Homo sapiens: one gene and its partners. The protein of the gene in region 1 interacts with the protein of each later gene in a biochemical or structural test. Each region holds a gene or a part of one and is shown on either strand. Other genes may lie near its edges.

Region 1 (7,027 bases):
GTGCTTATTTCTCTTCTGGAGTTTATATCCTAGAAGCTCTCCAATCGAAGCCCTCTGCAGGTATCCTCAGGTCCTGGAGAAACACAGCAGGAAGGCTTGTTGGCTTCGGAAAGGGAGGGCTATGGTTTAAAGCCAGTAAGATGTGGGTTTGATTCTTGACTTTGTCTCCTGTAGGCTGTGTGGCCTTAAATAAGTTACCTAATCTCTTGAGTCCTCAGTTTCCTCATTTGTAAGGCAGAGGAAACAATGCCTATGATTATGCTGATTAAATGAAACAGAGGCACAAAATAAGTGTTTAATGAATGACAACTACTATTGTCATTATTCTTCCTATCCATGCTATCTGCCATGTATTGGAGGCAAAAGCTGTTACTACTTCATGCATATGCGCTATGCAGGCTTCCAGAATGAAACTGATGGGGTCCCTTTCCCCCACATATGTGAGAGGGGGTCCCTCTTATTTCAACTCGTTCCTCATTGCTGGTTTGGCATATCTCAGCTACTCTAACCCGGCAAGAATCCACAGAAGAAGCCAAGAAGGAAAAAGGCTTATACATTTGCTTTACCCATAAGAAAACCTCAAGCCCTGTATCTGAAAAAAGAGGAAGATAAAAGGATCTATAAGACTTCAAGTTCCATGAGAAGAGGGACATGTCTATTTTGTTCAATACTCTATGCCCACTGCCTGGCACATAGGCAGCAAAACAAATATCTGTGGAATGCTATGTAAAGGCATCTATAGATGATGTGCCTCCCTTTAAGAAACCCAATATTTGAATATTTGCACTCATTCATACAAGATCCTCAAGTGCTCCGTTTGGATAATCTGGAGGGTATGAAAACATAGCCAAGATCATGAATTCTTTGGGCATTTGGGCCGCTGCACTGTTGCACCATTTAGACCTGTGATCTGAGAGTGTGAAAAACTCAAGGGATCCTCTGTAAAGTGTCTGCCTTTTTTTCCCTCCTGGGAGGAGCCGTTAGAAGGGCAACATTCTCCTTTCTCCCCCTTGGACGTGTGGGTGTTGGGGCAAGGGTGAGGAGTGACAGAGGTCTCCTGGGAAGACCATAAGATGGGGCAAGCACACCACAGTGAGGAGGGGGAGTCTGGCTATGACTTTAGAATTTCCTGATCGAAATTTCTCCTCTAAAGCTCCCCACCCTACTTGGGATCTGAGGTTATCATCCCCTCCCAGTCCCAAGAACCCTTCTTCCCTTGTTGGCAGAAATCTCCAGGAAGCATGCCCACAGGAACCACAACTCATGAATCAGAAGACAGATAATTAACCGAGGGAGTGACTGAGCAGCTTCAGGGATGAACCGCTTCGTTTTACCCAGCCCTCTCTGCTGCCCACAGAGTGGGCTGCTCCACCCCATCGCCTCTGCTCCCTCTTCCTGAACCTTGGCCCTTCCTGAGTGGGACCTTCATTGTGCCTGATGGAGCTCAGGCCACTAGTGGAAATGAAGGTGGGAGCAGGGAAATGACTCTGTTTAGGGGAACTGCCTATTCCCCGTGTGGGAACTGCTGGCATTTATTGAAACGTGAGACTCTCCAGCAAAAAAGTGATAGCATCTGCCTTTCTGTCCACACACACAGTCTCACCAAAAACACTCTTTTTTTTTTTTTGTTAGATAATTCAGGTATAATTTATGTACAGTAAAATTCACCCTTTTTAGTGCATACAGTTCTATGAATTTTGACAAATGCATATAGTCAAGTAACCATTGCCATCATCAAGATACAGAATTTTTCCATCATCCCCTAAAATTCCCCCAAGCTCTTTTTTTCCCTTCTTTTTCTTTCTAGAGGCAGGGTCTCACCATATTGCCCAGGCTGGTCTCGAACTTCTGAGCTCAGGCAATCTGCCCACCTCGGCCTCCCAAAGTGTTGGGATTACAGGCGTGAGCTACTGTGCCAGGTGCCCCCCCAGCTCTTTTGTAATCGATACCCTACCCTCAACCCTCGTCGGTTGCAACTGCTGATCTATTTCCTGTCCCTGCAGTTCTATGTTTTACAAAATGTCATATAAATGAAAGCATGCAGTGTATAGACTTTCAGTCTGGCTTCTTTCACTTAGCACAATACATTTGGGGTTAATCTATGATGCTGCATCTATCAGTAACTCTAAGACATTGTCTGAGGCCACTCCGTCATCCTCCGTGTTGGAACAGTTACCCTGAAAGCAGTGGGACTGGATCCGTTAAACTTTGGAGGTGCTCCCCAGCTTTCAGCTTCTAAATTTTATAATTGGATAGATGTATTTAGCTATATATAAGTCATTAGATTTTCCATGTGCTAAGTAGTTAAAGACTTCAGGATACTAGAGAGGATTCTGTAGCAACCAACACTTATTATTCTTGCTCATAGGAGTAACAGATATTTTGTGGCCAAATATTGTATGTCATGATGCTTGGAGTCAGAAGTTGTTAAGTAAACCTGGGGGCTATTCTACCTTTTTACATTTTTGGTAGCATCTCTGAAAAAACAACCCACTTGACTTTTTTTTTTTCCTTTTTTTTGGGAGGGTGGGTGGGTGGGTGGCTTTTTGGCCAAAACCAGAAAGCTTGCTAGACAAATTCTAACACTAGATCTAACACTAGATGTCTTATTTCTGTTTTTCTGTCATGTTCCCATGAAAAGACTATTTACTTACCCCCCTCTCTCGGTTTTATAGTTGAGTTAGTTCAATTTCTTAGTTCAGTTAGTGAAGATGTTTAAATATTCAAGGAGAGAAAGAAAAAGAACAAGGTGATACACATTTTAAAAAAGTCAAAATAACAAATATTGTTATTTCTTGGCTGGGCGCGGTGGCTCATGCCTGTAATCCCAGCACTTTGGGAGGCCGAGGCGGGCGGATCACCTGAGGTCAGGAGTTCAAGACCAGCCTGACCAACATGGAGAAACCCTGTCTCTACTAAAAATACAAAATCAGCTGGGCATGGTGGCATGCGTCTGTAATCCCAGCTACTCGGGAGGCTGAGGCAGGAGAATCGCTTGAACCCAGGAGGCAGAGGTTGCAGTGAGCCGAGATTGTGCCATTGCACTCCAGCCTGAGCAACAAGAGCAAAACTCTGTCTCAAAAAACAGAACAAAACAAAACAAATATTGTTATTTCTCAAATAGGTTCATCCACATAGGATCATTGTCAGTCGTTAAAATTGCTGGTTCCCTTCTAATTCTATTCCCCTATAATGTTCATATTAATCAGGTGGTGTGTTCTGTTTAGACATTTCCCCTCGCATTTATGTTTATTTGTGTGTGTGTGTGTATTCCTTTACTTAAACCCATGATATATAGTACTTCCTTTTATATAGAAAAAAGCTCAGTGTGGAAAGAACAACGTATCTGGAATTAAGAAACCTACATTCGATTCACAGTTCTGCAGGCTTTTTCATCAGCTTGCTGGGTGACTTTGAACAAGTGACTTTACCTTTAGGCATCAGTCTCTTGGTGTCCCAGGGGCTGCAAAGTGGGACAGAGAAGATGAAGGGAAATACTTCAATTTGCTCCTGCCCCTTCCCCACCACCTTCAACTGGAACTCCTTTAACTAATTAACAATTTGGAGTTCATGTAAGGATTTCTTTGGGAAAAAAAGAAGATCCTGCTGTTAAAATCAAGCTTGAAAAACTTTGCACTAGAAGAGAGCTCCAGAAGTTTGGCAAAAGACATATTCAGTAGCCACTTAAAAAGTCCCTGTAGTCAACCCTACATCTCTTTGCTAATGGAAATTTTGGATAGAGAAACCTGGGTCTGTGAGATCCACTGATGGCTCCAGACCCCAACTTTAGCCATCGCACGTGTTGAACTCCAGGTTGAGCCTTTGCTGGAGCCGCCTGCAAGGAGCATGTTTGACCAATCCCCAGTGGAGGGGAGGGTGGTGTTTCCTTTCTGGGACTTCCACAAGTTGAGAACAGACCATGCTGCCCTGGGCAGTTCTTGAAGGCTGTGAGAGTGGGCCTGACAAAGTTTATTCCTTTTTTTTTTTCCATTCTCTTTTATTATTATTATTGTTTGAAATTGACAAATAAAAATTATGTATATTTATGATGTACAACATGATGTCTTGAAATATGTGCGCATTGTGGAATGGTTAAATGAAGTTAAATAACATATGCATTACCTCACATACATACTTCTGATTTATTTGTGGTGAGAACACTTAAAAATCTCCTCCCAGCAATTTTCAGGTAGATGACATACGGTTATTAACTATAGTCACCATGTTGTACAGTGGATCTCTTGAACTTATTCCTCTTGTCTAACTGAAAATTTATATCCCTTGACCAGCATCTCCTCATGCAAACCATACCCCAAAGCTCATTTCTGTGTTCCTGCTGAGTTTGCCATTCCAAGAGGTTTTGATGCTGAAGGTGCAGTTTGTGGAAAGCCCAGCAGACTCTGGGGAGCCTACATTTAAATAAATGCAAATGTCGACAGGGAGGCAGAACAGAGGACATTTCAAATTAGCTTTAATTTTCTTTTAGCTTATAAAAGTAATTAAGCTTATTATTTAAAAAAAGGCAGCTCAGAAATATAATGCAGAAAGTACCAGTACCAGTTCCTTGTAGTCTTGTCCTTAAAGATAACCACTGTTGATAGTTACTGCAGAGTTTTTTTCTATGTATTTGTCAACATATATAATTATTTATCATTATTGTTATTTCTCAAATAGGATAATCAATAATAGGATCATTGTCTTTTTTTTTTTTTTTTTTGAGATGGAGTCTCACTCTGTCGCCCAGGCTGGAGTGCAGTTGTGTGATCCCAGCTCACTGCAACCTCCGCCTCCTGGGTTCAAGCAATTCTCCTGCCTCAGATTCCCGAGTAGCTGGGATCACAGGCATTTGCCACCACGCCCAGCTAATTTTTGTGTTTTTGATAGAGACAGGGTTTGGCCATGTTGGCCAGGCTGGTTTTGAACTCCTAACCACAGGTGATCCACCCGCCTCGGCCTCCCAAAGTGCTGGGATTACACGCATAAGCCACCGCACCTGGCCCATTGTCTCTTAATAATATACTCTAGGCATCTTTTTATGTCAGTTTATGGCTTTCCATTATTTATCCCAAGAGCTATAATTCTAGCCATAAGGCATACTCTTTGTTATATGGATATATCAGAATTTACTTAACCAATTCCCTGTTGGCAGACATTGGGATCATTCCCAATTATTTGCTACTACAAATAAAGCTGCAGGGGATATCCTTATTCATTTATTATGCACCTTTGTTCAAGTGTTTCTACAGACTTAATTTCTTGAATGAAAGTTGGTGGGTCGAAGGGCATGCGTATTTTAAATTTAAATTTTAGTAGGTGTTGTCAATTTGTCCTCCCAAACGGTTGAACCAGTTTGCTTTCCTACCAAGACAGGCTGGCAGTAAGGACTGGTGTTAGCACCGCGGCCTGCTGTCCACACCCATAACACATGAGCTGGGGGAGGAAGGCTGCAGAACTGGACAGCAGGATGCCAAGGAGGTCACCAATAGGGCACCCCTGGGCTGAGCCTCGGACAGCTTGGTACAGACCTGCTTCTTCTGTATACTGAATGAGGTGGGGTCGATGCTAATAAAAATTTCCAGAACTCTTGAGATGCAGCGTTTGAGTCAAATATCAGGCCATCAGGAAGAAATGGCCACTTGTGCCTTGTTTGAGGGTTCTCATGCCTTGGGTTGCTAGGCTTCCTAGGGTATGAGTCCCCCTGTTGATGTTTTCTGGCTGGAAGAGTGGATACTTCCAGGACTGGCAGCACCTTGAAGATCATCAAATTTGACACCTGTTTGTTTTACAAAAAAGCAAAAAGGGAGTTCCTGAGAAGTGAAGTGACTTGTCCAAGATCATACAACTGGCTCAGTGGCATTGGTTGGGTCTCTCCCTGGGGACTCTTGTCTCCTGCCCAGAGTGATTTCTTCACTATATCCTGTTAGAGACAAAGGGCCCTTTCACGTCTGACCCTGAGGTGGAGGCGAGGGGATGGGGATTCCTGGTGTAGGAAGTGACTAGAGTGAAAGTAAGGGGGAAGGAAATGAACATTTATTGAGCATCCACTATAGAGGGTTCTTTCATACGTGTTATGTCATTTAATCCTAACAACTCGGGAGCACTGGGGAAAGGAAGCAGCTGTTTGGAGTCTCCGGTGCTTGGCCGATGTGGCTGGTTAGACCCGTTAAATACTACAGAGCAGTTATCACTTCTCGACTATGAATGTGACATAGACTCAAAGAGGCACTGGGCCTTGGAGAGAGCACCAGAGAGATGAAGGGATGTACTTGAGGTCATACGGCCAGAGGAAGGGCAAAGATGGCTTTAGACGTGAGGTTTCCTGCTGCTTTGCATGCTTTTTCTGCCATATCCATCTGTTGTTTTACTGCTCCTGCCTTACCACATTTCTCAGGAGCTGGGTGTTAATTTTAGACCACAACCTTAGAGAAGACAGGACTCTGTCCCTGGAATGGGCTTTATGCAGTCTTCAGCACATGGCGACCTAATTAACCTCATTGGAGATGATAACCAGACATAATGTGGCTTCATTTACAAGGACAGGACCTGCCCTAGATCTTCCCATTAACATCATCTTGAAGTGTCAGCTCCACAGAGAGACCTTTCCTGACCACATGCTTTAAAGGAGACTCCTTCCCTCATTGCTTGCTATTCCCCGCCCCCCCCACCCCCACCCTTTCTTTTCCCTTTGAGGCAGAGTCTCACTCCATCACACAGGCTGGAGTGCAGTGGCACGATCTTGGCTCACTGCAAACTCCGCCTCCCATGTTCAAGCAATTCTCCTGCCTCAGCCTCCCAAGTAGCTGGGATTACAGGTGCGTGCCACCATGCCCAGCTAATTTTTCTAGTTTTAGTAAAGACTGGATTTCGCCATGTTGGCCAGGCTGGTCTTGAACTCCTGACCTCAGGTGATCTACCCGCCTTGGCCTCCCACAGTGCTCAGATTACAGTGTTAGCCACCATGCCCGGCCTATCCTGCTTTATTTTCTTACAGCATGAAGGGTCAATGAAAGGATATGGCCAGTGGTCA
Region 2 (6,020 bases), on another chromosome or scaffold:
AAAACGAGCCACATCAGTGCTGCCCAGTTTTTCTGTAATGCCAAATCTAGGCTAAAGATTTCCCACTCACCACCAGCACACACTAGCAGGTAGTAGTTGGACCAATGTGACTTGAGAGCGGACTGGTGCTTCACCTAATGCCAACTGAAACTTCAGCTCGCTGGCTCCACCCAGTGGTGGCGAATAAGCACAGCAACCTCATTAACAATGAGACAGATTTCTTGCCTCATTTGATGCTCAATCTTACTTACCTGAGATCAATACATTACATTAGCAGGGCCAAGGGACCGATGATCTCCAGCCTATGGCAATTAGAAGAGACGGAAAGGCAGTATTGATTAATGCTGTGGTGATCCCAGCCCTAATCTTTTAACCCTCAGGAAACCAGACAGACTCAGTGCCTTCATGGCACAACATCTTCATTAGATAAACTGGATTCCTTTCCTCAGGAGACCCAATTTGGTCCTCTAAGTAAAACGGCCATTTCATTTTCTCTCAGGTCAATTTCACTGTCTTTTATTTGACAGCTAGCGCAGTCTTTGGGGAAATTTGTGGGTGATTTGAGTAGTAACAGCAAGGACATCACTGTAATTATGATAGTGCCTTATATTTTTCTAGCACCTCTCCCAAGGACTTATGAAGACTTTTAGATTCTTCATCCCTTCACACAACATTGCTTCAAGGTAGGGCCAAGGCAGAAATTATCATCACTGTTTTACAAGGAAAGACACTCCTGTGCGGTCTCAAAGCAAATGCTTTTAAGAGCTAAAAATTCATTTCCTAGTTCTGTTCACCAAATGATGCCTTCTTTAAACATAAATACAAATTGTAATGTTAGCAGGTGCTATTTACAGAGAGAAACAAAGAGAATTTTACAATAGTCGCCAACACTGCAGCTGCCAAAAAATCCCTAGCTCAGAAATTTAAAGCAGCAATCCCATTTTCCCTACAGAAATGAAAACATATTGAACTTTCTTTTGTATTTAGCAGTAATCCAGCAAAATATAAGCTTTAATATAGCGACTGAGGAGTGGTAGTTTGAGCCATGAGGTACGGGGGAGCCAGAATCCACTTAGTGAGGACAGTGATGACCAGCAGGTGGCAGAAGTAAATTCCAAGCAGCCAAAAAACCAAAAACATTCGGAGAATTTTCCCCCCGTTCCTGAGGGACAGGATGGAGTTTGGACAGGAAGAACTGTAAGAAGCCAAGATCTGCGACAGTCCCAACAAATACAGTCTGGTCACATGGATACAGGAAGGACGATCTGGGGAGGCATACCAACAAGAAACGAAGCCAGGGACCTGAATGCAAAACTAGCCTCAGGTGACATGTTCTCCTGCACTTAGAAGCACTGGCAAAACCATGCCCACATAGAGGGGGCAGACACATGTCTGGGTTTCAGTTTCTGCAGACCTTCATCATTTGTTTTCCTTTTTGTTTTCTCTGTTGCCCAGGCTGGAGTGCAATGGCGCAATCTCGGCTCACTGCAACCTCCGCCTCCCAGCTTCAAGGGATTCTGCCTCAGCCTCCTGTGGAGCTGGGATTACAGGCGTGTGCCACCATGCCTGGATAATTTTTGCATTTTTAGTAGAGATGGGGTTTCACTAAGTTGGCCAGGCTGGTCTCAAACTCCTGACCTGAAGTGATCTGCCCACCTCGGTGTCCCAAAGTGCTGGGATTACAGGCGTGAGCAACCGCGCCCTTGCTTTCCTCTTAATCACTGTAGCTCTACCCCGTGGCTATTCCTAGGTAGGTGCCCCCTCCCCAGCCCAACCCCACCGGTTTCCTTGGAGGAAACCATCCATGGTCGATGGCTGCTGGGCCTTGACTCTCTGCCCAGCGCCTCTACTGCATGGATGGGGTTCCTGCCCTCGAAGCAGACATCTTCTTTTTCTGACTTTCCAAAAGCAGCGGAGAGGCAGGAGGTGCGTCGTGAGGTCTGGGTGCAGGACCTAGGAAGAAGAGGTTACAAGGAACCTGCGCCGGGAGCATGCGGTGCCCTCGGGACAGACCTAGCCCCAGGGCCCGTGGGTGTCCCTTCTTTCCAGTGGACATTCCCACCCTTTTCATACAGCCCATAGATAAATGAAGCAGCAGCAATTTTTATTGAGGGACCTAAACTGAAAATAGGTTTAGAACATAATTTAAAAAAATAAAACAGCAAAAGTAGCAAAAAATATATGACCTTTTTAAAAACATTTTCCTTTTTTTTCTTTTTTGTTTTTAATATATAGCAACTGATGCCTCCCAGCCACCAGGAGCATCTTACCCGATGGGTAAATCTCTGGTAACGACCCTTTTAAAAAGACATGTAAATATATACTCAGATTTATACACTTTGTGTTTTCTTCATAGCTATATACAGAGCCCCCAGTTTGGGGCTGGGCCCCAGGGCCACAACACTGCCCCCAACCTGGCCTTCGCCTCACCATCCTCTGGTACCAGGCATTTGGTCAGCAAAGCAAACTAGTATCGGAATTAATAAGCCACTGGCACCACCTATCTGGGGCAGAGGTCACCTTCAATCGAGGCACGAAGCACTGACCTCCCTACTGCTGTAGCCCTGAGGACAAGGCACCTGCCACCAGAGTGCGAGGGGCTTATGGGTGAAGGCAAAACAGACCAAACCGACAGGAGAAAGCTCAGGAAGCTCTCACTTGCATGCCTGTTCATTGGCTCCCACTCCCTGCCCTCCAGGCAGTGCCTGGTGGCAGGGAGGGGTGTTGGTCCAACATCTGGGAGGGGATGAAGTGGCTGGCAGCAAAGATCTGCCTCTTTGCACCTCTCACCAGCAGGTGGAGAGGAGGTGGAGGGAGAGGTGAGCTGAGTGGGGTGAAGGCAGGCCACACAGGAAGGCCCCTGGTAGGCAGCCGGCTCCTGCCAGCAGGAAAGGGGACAGGGACGGACAGGTGGTGGGCCCAGCAGGGGCTGTGGGTGAGGGTTACAGCTGACGGTGGAGTCTGGGGAGGGCGTGTGGGTGGCAGTCAGCGGCGTTTGAGTCCGCCATTGGCAAGCTGGGCTGGGTGTCGGGGCAGGCAGGGCTCCTCGGGCAGCGGCTCATGAGAGAAGACGGAATCCTCCCCTGAGGAGCACGTAGAGCTCCGGGTGTCGGGAAAGCTGGGGGAGTACTGGTCCAGGGGCATGGACAGGTCCAGGTACTCCTGTGATGGGCGAGAGGAAGCAGCGATGGGCCGGGCCCCTCCTCCCTGCTCAGGGAGGTGCGTGCACGCAGTGGGGACGGCCTGAGCTCTGGCTCTGGCACGGGCAGCCTTACCTGGTTGGAGGTCAAGGCCACGATGCGGTCCAGGTCTTCCACCAGCTGCTTGAAGGTGGGTCTCTGTGAGGGCACTGCATGCCAGCAGTCCCGCATCATCATGTACCTGCGGCAGGACTGTAAGGTCAGGGACGTCTCCTGGAGATGGATACTCTCTAGTCTAGCCCCCTGCCCCTCAAGCCCACTCTTGCCCCAAGGCCTGGCTCAGGGCCTCCGACATCTCCTCGGGCTTACAGCTCGTTGGTGCAGTTACTGGGCTTGTCCATGCGGTGACCCTCCTTCAGCAGCTTGAAAAGTTCCTCCACAGGCACACCGGGGTATGGGGAGCCGCCCAGAGTGAAGATCTCCCACAGGAGCACCCCGAAAGACCACCTGCAAATGGGCGGAGAGCCACAGGGTGTTAGAGCTTCTCCGCCTCCCCTCCCCCAGCACAAATCCTCTACCCAGGGCAGTGCCAGGAGACAGCATGGAGAACAGATCAGCCTTTCAACATCTGGAGCAGAGGGAATGGCCACAGACAATGTTTTGTTTTTCTCTCTGGGGCAGAAAGAGGACTCCTCAGTCCAGGGAGAAAGCAGGACTCTACAGTGCTAGAAGCTCTCTATCCCACACCTCCCTGGCAATTGCTATTACAAACTCACACATCACTCTGGTGGGTGTAGATCCGGTCAAATAATGCCTCGGGTGCCATCCACTTCACAGGCAGTCGGCCCTGAAAGCAGCACAGGGGAGGTTGGAGTGGCCCCAGGCAGGGCCATGAGGGCACAGGTGGGAAGGGACTGGGGGGTGGGTTCTCAGCCCACCCCACTCCTTGCTTCTCAGATGAAACCACCAGCACAGGGCGGCCTTGTCGGCACTCACGTTGGTTGTCTTTTTATAGTAGTCGATGTGGTGAATGTCCCGTGCGAGGCCAAAGTCTGCTATCTTCATCACATTGTCCTCTGTCACCAGGACATTCCTGGCTGCCAGGTCTCGGTGTATGCACTGAGGAAGGAGGAAGGGAGAGCGGGAGGCGGGGAGGTGAGGGAGCTGGAAGGCTCTGGGCGGCCGCCACCCATGCAACTAGCCGACTTGTCTCATAGAACTTCTGCCACACTGCTCTGCCCCCCGAACCTTTGCTTTCCCTCTTCTAACATTCTCTGCCAGCTCCAGGCTTCTCATCACAGCAAGCGCTCCTCCCTTCCTTCCCCAAAGACTGGCCCCTTATGCCTCTGCTGCGTCTGCAGCGATGCATGCTCCTAGGTCCTGCCTCCCAGCACAGCAAGTCCACATGGGGCTGGGCTCAAACCAGGCCAGCCCTTACACACCAAACACTGCACTCAACACTCACAGACAGTTTCATTTTATCTTCATAACAATTCTACAACAGGTATTGTTATACTTTATTTTCTTTTGAGACAGGGCCTTGCTCTGTCGCCCCGGCTGGGGTGCAGTGGTGTGATCATGGCTCAGTGCAGCCTCAAACTCTTGGGCTCAAGCTAGCCTCCCACCTCAGCCTCCCGAGTAGCTGGGACTATCGGCACGCACTACCACACCCAGCTAATTTTTTAATTTTTTTTTTTTTTTTAAAGACGGGGTTTCAATATATTGCCCAACCTGGTCTCACACTCCTGAGCTCAAGCAATCCTCCCGCCTTGGCCACTGCACCCAGCTGATATTATTATTATTTTGTATTTGAAGAATTTTAAGATGCTAAGTAGCTGCCTGAGGCTACGCAGAAAGTGGCAGTGCACAGATCGGACCCTGCATCAGTCTGACCCCAAGGCCACCTGGCTACACTGGTGCTCCTGACTCTGCAGTTCCCAGAGAGCCTAAGACAACACACAGGGCACACAGGGCCAGTGCTCAGTGCATCCACAACGCCACCACAAGATGATAAGTCACAGGCTGGAAGACTAGGGGGGCTCTGTTCCCACCCTGGCATTACCCAGGGGAGCCTTCAGGTTCCACACCTTCTTGGAGGCCAGATACTCCATGCCTCGGGCCACCTGGTAGGCGCAGGACACCAGGTCCTTGGAGGAGAGCTGCTCCTCTGGGTTGTGGCTGGGGTTGTAGCAGTATTCCAGCCCTGGGGGCCTCCGGGCCTGCAGGTACTCCCGCAGGTTGCCCTTGGAGGCATACTCCACGATGACATACAAGGGACCTGCAGGCACAGGAGAAGAGGCCATGGGGCCAGCAGCAGGTGAGCAGGTTTGGCTTCACCTCAAAGAAACCCCACCCCCAGCAGCACACCCCGGCCAACCTCCCATCTCCTGCCTCCTCTTAGGGGACCTGGGAAATCCATTCTACTACCCAAAAAAAATCAGAGAAATAATTACTCCCAGCATAGTCCAGAAAATTCCCGAGCAACATTGGGGTAAGAGCCCCAGTTTGTCTGTTTATTTTGAGATGGAGTCTCACTCTGTTGCCCAGGCTGGAGTGCAGTGGCGCAATTTCGGCTCACTGCAACCTCTGCCTTCTGGATTCAAGTGATTCTCCTGCCTCAGCCTCCCAAGCAGCTGGGATTACAGGCATGAACAATGCCTGGCTAATTTTTTTTTTTTTTTTTTTTTTTTTTGAGATGGAGTTTTGCTCGTTGCCCAAGCTGGAGTGCAATGGCGCGATCTCGGCTAACCGCAACCTCCGCCTCCCGTGTTCAAACGATTCTCCTGCCACAGCCTCCCGAGTAGCTGGAATTACAGGCATGCGCCACCACGCCCGGCTACTTTTTGTATTTTTAGTAGAGATGGGGTTTCACCTGTTGGC
Region 3 (6,970 bases), on another chromosome or scaffold:
TCGCTAAACTCCCTAACATCAGGAGCCATCAGGCAAATTATCTCAAGTCTTGATTTACAAACCAAACCCTTATGCCTCTGATTACACAGGGGACCGGTCTGACAAACTTTTTTTTTTTTTTTGAGGTAGGTTTTTGTTGGCTGGAGTGCAGTGGCGCAATCACGGCTCACTGCAGACTTGACCTCCCAGACTCAAGTGATCCTCTCACCTTAGCCTCCCGAATAGCTGGGATTAAAAGTGTGCGCCACCATGCCCGGATAATTTTTTGTTTTTTTGTAGAGACGAGGGATCTCACTATGTTACTCAGGCTGGTTTCGAACTCCTGATCTCAAATGATCCTCACACCTTGGCCTCCCAAAGTGCTGGGATTATAGGTGTGAGCCACCATGTCTGGACACAAATATTCTTTTTCTTTTTTTAATTTAATTTTTCAAATAGAGAATGTATGTTGGCTGGGCACAGTGCCTCATGCCTGTAATCCCAGCACTTTGGGAGGCTGAGGTGAGAGGATCGCTTGAATTCATGAGTTTGAGACCAGCCTGGGCAATCTGGCAAAACCCTGTCTCTACAAAAAATACAAAAATTAGCCCAGCATGGTGGTGTGCACTGGTAGTCCCAGCTATTCCGGGGGCTGAGGTAGGAGAATCACTTGAACCCAGGAGGTGGAGGCTGCAGTGAGCCGAGATTGCATCACTGCACTCCAACCTAGGCAACAGAATGAGACCCCGTCTCAAAAAAAAAAAAAAAAAATAGATGGGATCTTACTGTGTTGCCCAGGCTGGCCTCTAATTCCCAAGCTCAAGTGATCCTCCTGCCCCAGCCTCCCAGAGTGCCGGAACTACAGGCATGAGCCATCACACCCAGCCAATAAACATTCTTTTCTGATAAGCAACTGCAGAACTTAAGCCAGTTTCAGCCAGCTTACAGAAGCTGTGAACAACCTGTTTAGCCAATGCACATGAGCTCACCTCCTCTCATAAATATGTATACAGCTTTTCCCTCAAACCTGCTAAATATGTATGAATATGGGCCCTGTGAGGCATAAAACCCAACCTGTCCTTTCTCTCTTGGAAGAGAGCACCTTCAGTGCATGCTGCAAACCATCTCTTCCTGGTTTGCAAACAAGTATCAACAATAAAGTGCTCCTTTCTACTATTTAGCCACCCTGGTGATCTTCTAGACAACATTATGCGTATTTCTGCTAGGAACATTAGTGTTCAAATCTCTGTGTAGGCAGATGTTTTCATTTTTTGTAGGTAGATATCTCAGGCTGGACTTGCTGGGCCATATGGTAAATTTATGTTTAACTTCTACAGATTTTGTGAAGTGGTTATACTGTCTTATATCCCCACCAGTAGTGAATGTGGGTTCATATATATATATAGTTTTTTTTTTTTTTTTTTTTGAGACAGTCTTACTCTGTCACCCAGGCTGGAGTGCCGTGGCACAATCGCGGCTCACTGCAACCTCCGCCTCCCAGGTTCAAGCCATTCTCCTGCCTCAGCCTCTCGAGTAGCTGGGATTACAGGTGCCCACCACCACACCCGGCTAATTTTTTTCTATTTTTAATAGAGACGGGGTTTCACCATGTTAGCCAGGCTGGTTTCAAATTCCTGACCTCAACTGATCCGCCCGCCTTGGCCTCCCAAAGTGCTGGGATTACAGGCCTGAGACGTCGTGCCCGGCCTCATTTCATTTTTTAGAGCATCACAAACTACCTCTCCAGCTCATCTTGCTAGAGTTACTGCATAATCCATGCATTCCTGCCAAGGATCAGCCATCTTCTTGAGTCGGAGGGCTTCCTGCTAGCTCGGTGCCTGGTGTTATCACCCTCGGCTCTTCTGGAGGTAGAGGGGCTACCTATCTTCTTTTCATTCTTTTTTTTTTTTTTTTTTAATTTGAGACAGAGTTTCACTCTTGTTGCCCAGGCTGGAGTGCAATGGTGCGATTTTGGCTCACCACGACCTCCGCCTCCCGGGTTCAAGCGATTCTCCTGCCTCAGCCTCCCGAGCAGCTGGGATTACAGGTATGCGCCACCATGCCCGGCTAATTTTGTATTTTTAGTAGAGACGGGGTTTCTCCATGTTGGTCAGGCTGGTCTGGAACTCCCGACCTCAGGTGATCCGCCTGCCTGGACCTCCCAAAGTGCTGGGATTACAGACGTAAGCCACCGCGCCCAGCCAATTTTTGTATTTTTAGTAGAGACGGGGTTTCGCCATGTTGCCCAAGCTGATCTTGAACTCCTGACCTCAGGTGATCCACCCGCCTCGGCCTCCCAAAGTGCTGGGATTACAGGCGTGGGCCACTGCGCCCGGCCCCAGTTTTTCTAAGTTATATAGTTTAGGTTTCACAACTAGATCTATGATCCATTCTAGGTTAATTTTTGCATATGGGTTTCTTTTTTTTTTTTTTAGGATGAGTGTGTGGATATCCAATTATACCTACAACATTTGTTGAAGACACCATCTCTTCTTGTTTTCCCAAGTTTCCACACACATTATTGATAAAATAAATTTTTTTGGGGGGGGTGCTGGGTGTCGCTGGGCTGTAACTCCTTACCTCAAGCCATCTGCCCACCTCGGCATCCCAAAGCGCTGGGATTACAGGCGTGAGCCACCGCCCCGGGCCGAAGGCATTATCCTTTCTCCACTGAATTGCACTTTCATTTTTGTCAAAAATTAATTGCTCACATATCGGAACTCTATTCTGTTGCATTGATCCATTTGTCTACCTGGACGCCAATACCACACTTTCTTTCTTTTTTAAATTAATTTATTTATTGAGACAGGGTCTCTCAGTCAGGGTGGAGTGCAGTGGTGCAATCAAAGCTCACCACAGCCTCAGCCTCTTGGACTCAGGTGATCCTCCCATCTCAGCCTCCCGAGTAGCTGGACTACAGGTACGTGCCTGGCTCATTTTTTGTAGAGACGGGGTTTTGCCATGTTGCCCAGGCTGGGTATCTTTTTTTTTTTTTTCTTTTTTGAGATGGAGTCTTGCGTCTTGCTCTGTCATCCAGGCTGGAGTGCAGTGGCGCGATCTCGGTTCACTGCAATCTCTGCCTCCCTAGTAGCTGGGTTCAAGCGATTCTCCTGCCTCAGCCTCCCTAGTAGCTGGGATTACAGGCGCCGGCCACCTCGCCCGGCTAATTTTTGTATTTTTAGGTTTACTGGCGTGAGCAACCGCGGCCGGCCCCAATACTACACTTTCTTGTTTACTGTGTAGTCCTTATCTTCTGGCGCAAAGCGGGCACTCGCTAAAAACCTGAATGAAAGTATAAAGCAGGCCGGGCGCAGTGGCTCATGCCTGTAATCCCAGCATTTTGGGAGGCCGGGGCGGGCGGATCACGAGGTCAGGAGTTCGAGACCAGCCTGGCCAACATAGTGAAACCCTGTCTCTACTAAAAATACAAAAAAAAAAAAAAAAAAAAAAAAAAAAAAAAAAAAAGCCGGGCATGGTGGCGCTCGCCTGTAGTCCCAGCTACTCGGGAGGCTGAGGCAGGAGAATCAATCGCTTGAACTCGGGAGGCAGAGATTGTGGTGAGCCGAGATCGCGCCACTGCACTCCAGCCTGGGCAACAGAGTGAGACTCCGTCTCCAAAAAAAAAAAAAAAAAGAAAAGTATGAAACGATGAGTACAATGAGTAGCCAGCCGCCTGCCCCACCTACCCCGCCGCTCCGGACTGCCGCCTGCGCCGAGCCTAGGCCGCCCAGCCTGACTGAAACTGCCGCTGCTGAACTCAGCGTATCCAGTCCCGCAGCTGACCAATCGGAGCTCGCCCTTCCGGGGCCCGCCCCATTCCAGGAATCGACCTCCGCACCGGCCTCGAAAATTGACCAATCGGTTGTGTAGCTCCGCTCTTAGTCCCGCCCCCACGCTGAAACTGACACTTCGGATCGCCGAGTAACGCTCACCAGACGTCCCGGCCCTGCCCCTCACCTGACCAATCAAGACGGCCGGCCGAGGCCCCTGGAACGGCTCAGGCGGCTGCGGCTGCTACGGCGGCGCATGCTAGGGGATTCTGCCGGGTGAGTGCTGGGCGGCAGGACTGGGGTGGGGCGGAAGGGCTCGGCAGGAGGCCCCACGTGCATTCCCGCGAGGGGCTCGGGGGCCGCAGTGGAAAAGAAGGGTAGGCTGCATCTGCCTCTGCGGGGGTCCCGCCTCGGCGTCCGCCCGCTCGCCCTCTGTTACTTCTGCGGCCCCGGTGTTTCTGGAGCGTCGCTTTCCCGGTGTCTCCGCTCAGCTTTTCCCTTTCCAAAGCGCGGCCGGGGCCAGGGGAGGGCAAGGCCTGCTGTGCCCTTTGACCCCGTGCGAAAACGGCGACCCTCTGACTATAGGGGTGTGGCCCAGAGCCACTTGGCCAGTTAGGGGTGGGGGCCGGGATCTTTGTCCTGCGGATCAAACAGTTGGCCCCTCTGGACTGCATCTCCGTGCCCCCCGGCCCTGCGGGGTAATATACGTGTGTGGGGGAGGTTCCGGGGTAGTCGGCTACTCTGTGCTCCAGACCTTGCACCCGATCCTGAGGATCCTTGGAGGTGGGGGGCAAGGGCTGGGAGGAGGAGGCGGAGTTTTCCCAGGCTCCCCCACACTTCCAGGGAAAGGCTTTCCAAGAACCCTGAACTCATGGACCCTGGAGTCAAATTTTGGTTCAGATCTAGCCTCTTGCTAGCTGTGTGACTTGGGGCAAGTTGCTTAACTTCCCTGAGCTTTGGTTTCTTCATATGTAAAAAGAAAGTGAAGGAGGAAGGGAGGGCAGGAAAGGAGGAAGAATCCCTTTTGAAGCCTGATTTGTGTTGGACTCACCAGTTATAAAGCAAGCTTGTCCAAACCACTGCCCAGGAGGCGGAGGTTGCAGTGAGCCAAGAAAAAAAGGAAGCATGCCCTTGCCCCAGCCATTTTGGTAATAATAGACGTTTATTGAATGCTTACTGTATACCACTGTAAGCACTGTATTAAGTAAGCACTGTACTGAGTGCTTTGTTTTTTGTATTTTGTGTGTGTGTGTGACAGTCTTGCTCTGTCACCCAGGCTGGAGTGCAGTAGTGTGATCTCCACTCACTACAACCTCCGCCTCCCAGGTTCAAGCGATTCTCCTGCCTCAGCAGCCTCCTGAGTAGCTGGGATTACTGGCGCCCACCACCACACCCGGCTAATTGTTTGTTGTTGTTGCTGTTTTTGAGACGGAGTCTCACCCTGTCGCCCAGGCTGGAGCGCAATGGTGCGATCTCGGCTCACCGCAACCTCTGCCTCCCGGGTTCAGGTGATTCTCCTGCCTCAGCCTCCCGAGTAGCTGGGATTACAGGCGCGTGCCACCACGCCCGGCTAATTTTTGCATTTTTAGTAGCGACGAGGTCTCTCGCCACGTTGGCTAGGCTCATCTCAAACTCCTGACCTCAGGTGATCCTCCTGCCTCAGCCTCCCAAAGTGCTGGGATTACAGACGTGAGCCACTTGGCCTGTTTTTTGTTTTTTTTACAGTGATGCAACCATGGCTCACTGCAGCCTGGGTCTCCTGGGCTAAAGCTATCCTCCTGAGTAGCTGGGGCCACAGACAAGTGCCACCATGGCCAGCTAATTAAATTTTTTTTTGGCCAGGCACTGTAGCTCATGCCTGTAATCCCAGCACTTTGGGAGACCGAGGCAGGCGGATCACAAGGTCATGAGATCGAGACCATCCTGGCTAACACGGTGAAACCCCGTCTCTACTAAAAATACAAAAAATTAGCTGGGCGTGGTGGCAGGCGCCTGTAGTCCCAGCTACTCAGGAGGCTGAGGCAGGAGAATGGCGTGAACCCGGGAGGCGGAGCTTGCAGTGAGCCGAGATTGCGCCACTGCACTCCAGCCTGGGCGACAGAGCAAGACTCCATCTCAAAAAAAAAAAACAAAAAAACAAAACAAAAAAAAATGTTTCTACAAATGTTGTCCAGGCTTAACATGCTTTCTTTAATTCTAACAACAATCGTATGAGGTAGATACTGTTGTCGTCCAGCAGATGAGGAAACTGAGGCACAGAGAAGTTAAATAACTTGCCTGAGGCAGTACAGTTAAAGAGTGTCGAATGGGGGTCTCTGGCACCACAGGGCACCCTACTGAGCCCCGTGTCCTGCTGTCTTGACTTCAGGTAGAAGAGCTGGGCCTGGAACCCAGCCCTGAGGACATCCTGCGGCCCAGGGGCAAGTGACACCTGCTGAGAGAGGCCCAGGATGGTGGAGGCTGAGGAACTGGCACAGCTGCGGCTGCTCAATCTGGAGCTCCTGAGGCAGCTGTGGGTGGGGCAGGATGCTGTGCGGCGGTCAGTGGCCAGGGCAGCCTCGGAGGTGCGTGCCCGCCTTGGGAACCCCAGAGGAAGGGGCTACCTGACCTTCAGGCCAGCATCCAGGCTTCTGGGCTCATCTTGTTCAATACACCCATTTTACTGATGATGGGACATTGAGGGCTGGGGAGGGAAGAGACTGGCCTTGGTCACTGCTGAGGCCGGAGCAGGATGAGGATGCTTGCCTTGGTGCCTGGCGTAGGCCCGGTGGGTAGGTTCTGGCAGCCACTCCCTGGGTGACCCGGCCCCTCTCTCCAGTCAAGCCTGGAATCCAGCAGCAGCTACAACTCAGAGACTCCATCGACCCCAGAGACGTCCTCAACTTCCTTGAGCACCTCCTGCCCACGGGGCCGGTCCTCCGTGTGGGGCCCACCAGATGCCTGTCGAGGGGACCTCCGTGATGTGGCCAGATCGGGGGTGGCCTCTCTCCCACCTGCCAAATGCCAGCACCAGGAGTCCCTGGGCCGACCGAGACCCCACTCAGCACCCTCGCTGGGCACCTCAAGCCTGAGGGACCCAGAGCCCTCAGGGAGGCTGGGTGATCCAGGACCCCAGGAGGCACAGACCCCGAGGTCCATCCTGGCTCAACAGAGCAAGCTGTCCAAGGTAACGTGGGAGAGCGGGACATCTGCTGATGGGAGGAGCTTCCTTGGGCCTCAGT

Evidence for each region. The genes of interacting proteins can lie anywhere in the genome.
Region 2: the proteins of ITGB3 (region 1) and FGFR1 form a complex in vitro, tested with the Homo sapiens proteins (one study listed by BioGRID).
Region 3: the proteins of ITGB3 (region 1) and MIIP form a complex in vitro, tested with the Homo sapiens proteins (one study listed by BioGRID).

The regions. Positions count from the first base shown.
Region 1 is NC_000017.11:47,256,821-47,263,847, forward strand, and holds part of ITGB3 (integrin beta-3 precursor), read left to right. Parts: intron 1-7,027. UniProt on the Homo sapiens protein: Integrin alpha-V/beta-3 (ITGAV:ITGB3) is a receptor for cytotactin, fibronectin, laminin, matrix metalloproteinase-2, osteopontin, osteomodulin, prothrombin, thrombospondin, vitronectin and von Willebrand factor.
Region 2 is NC_000008.11:38,410,643-38,416,662, forward strand, and holds the end of FGFR1 (fibroblast growth factor receptor 1 isoform 1 precursor), read right to left. Parts: intron 5,419-6,020; coding exon 5,228-5,418; intron 4,260-5,227; coding exon 4,137-4,259; intron 3,988-4,136; coding exon 3,917-3,987; intron 3,648-3,916; coding exon 3,510-3,647; intron 3,382-3,509; coding exon 3,276-3,381; intron 3,163-3,275; coding exon 2,986-3,162; 3' UTR 1,954-2,985; coding exon of another isoform or gene 1,747-1,953; 3' UTR 501-1,746; downstream 1-500. UniProt on the Homo sapiens protein: Tyrosine-protein kinase that acts as a cell-surface receptor for fibroblast growth factors and plays an essential role in the regulation of embryonic development, cell proliferation, differentiation and migration.
Region 3 is NC_000001.11:12,015,528-12,022,497, forward strand, and holds the start of MIIP (migration and invasion-inhibitory protein), read left to right. Parts: upstream 1-3,970; 5' UTR 3,971-4,025; exon of another isoform or gene 4,026-4,447; intron 4,448-6,117; 5' UTR 6,118-6,199; coding exon 6,200-6,313; intron 6,314-6,567; coding exon 6,568-6,915; intron 6,916-6,970.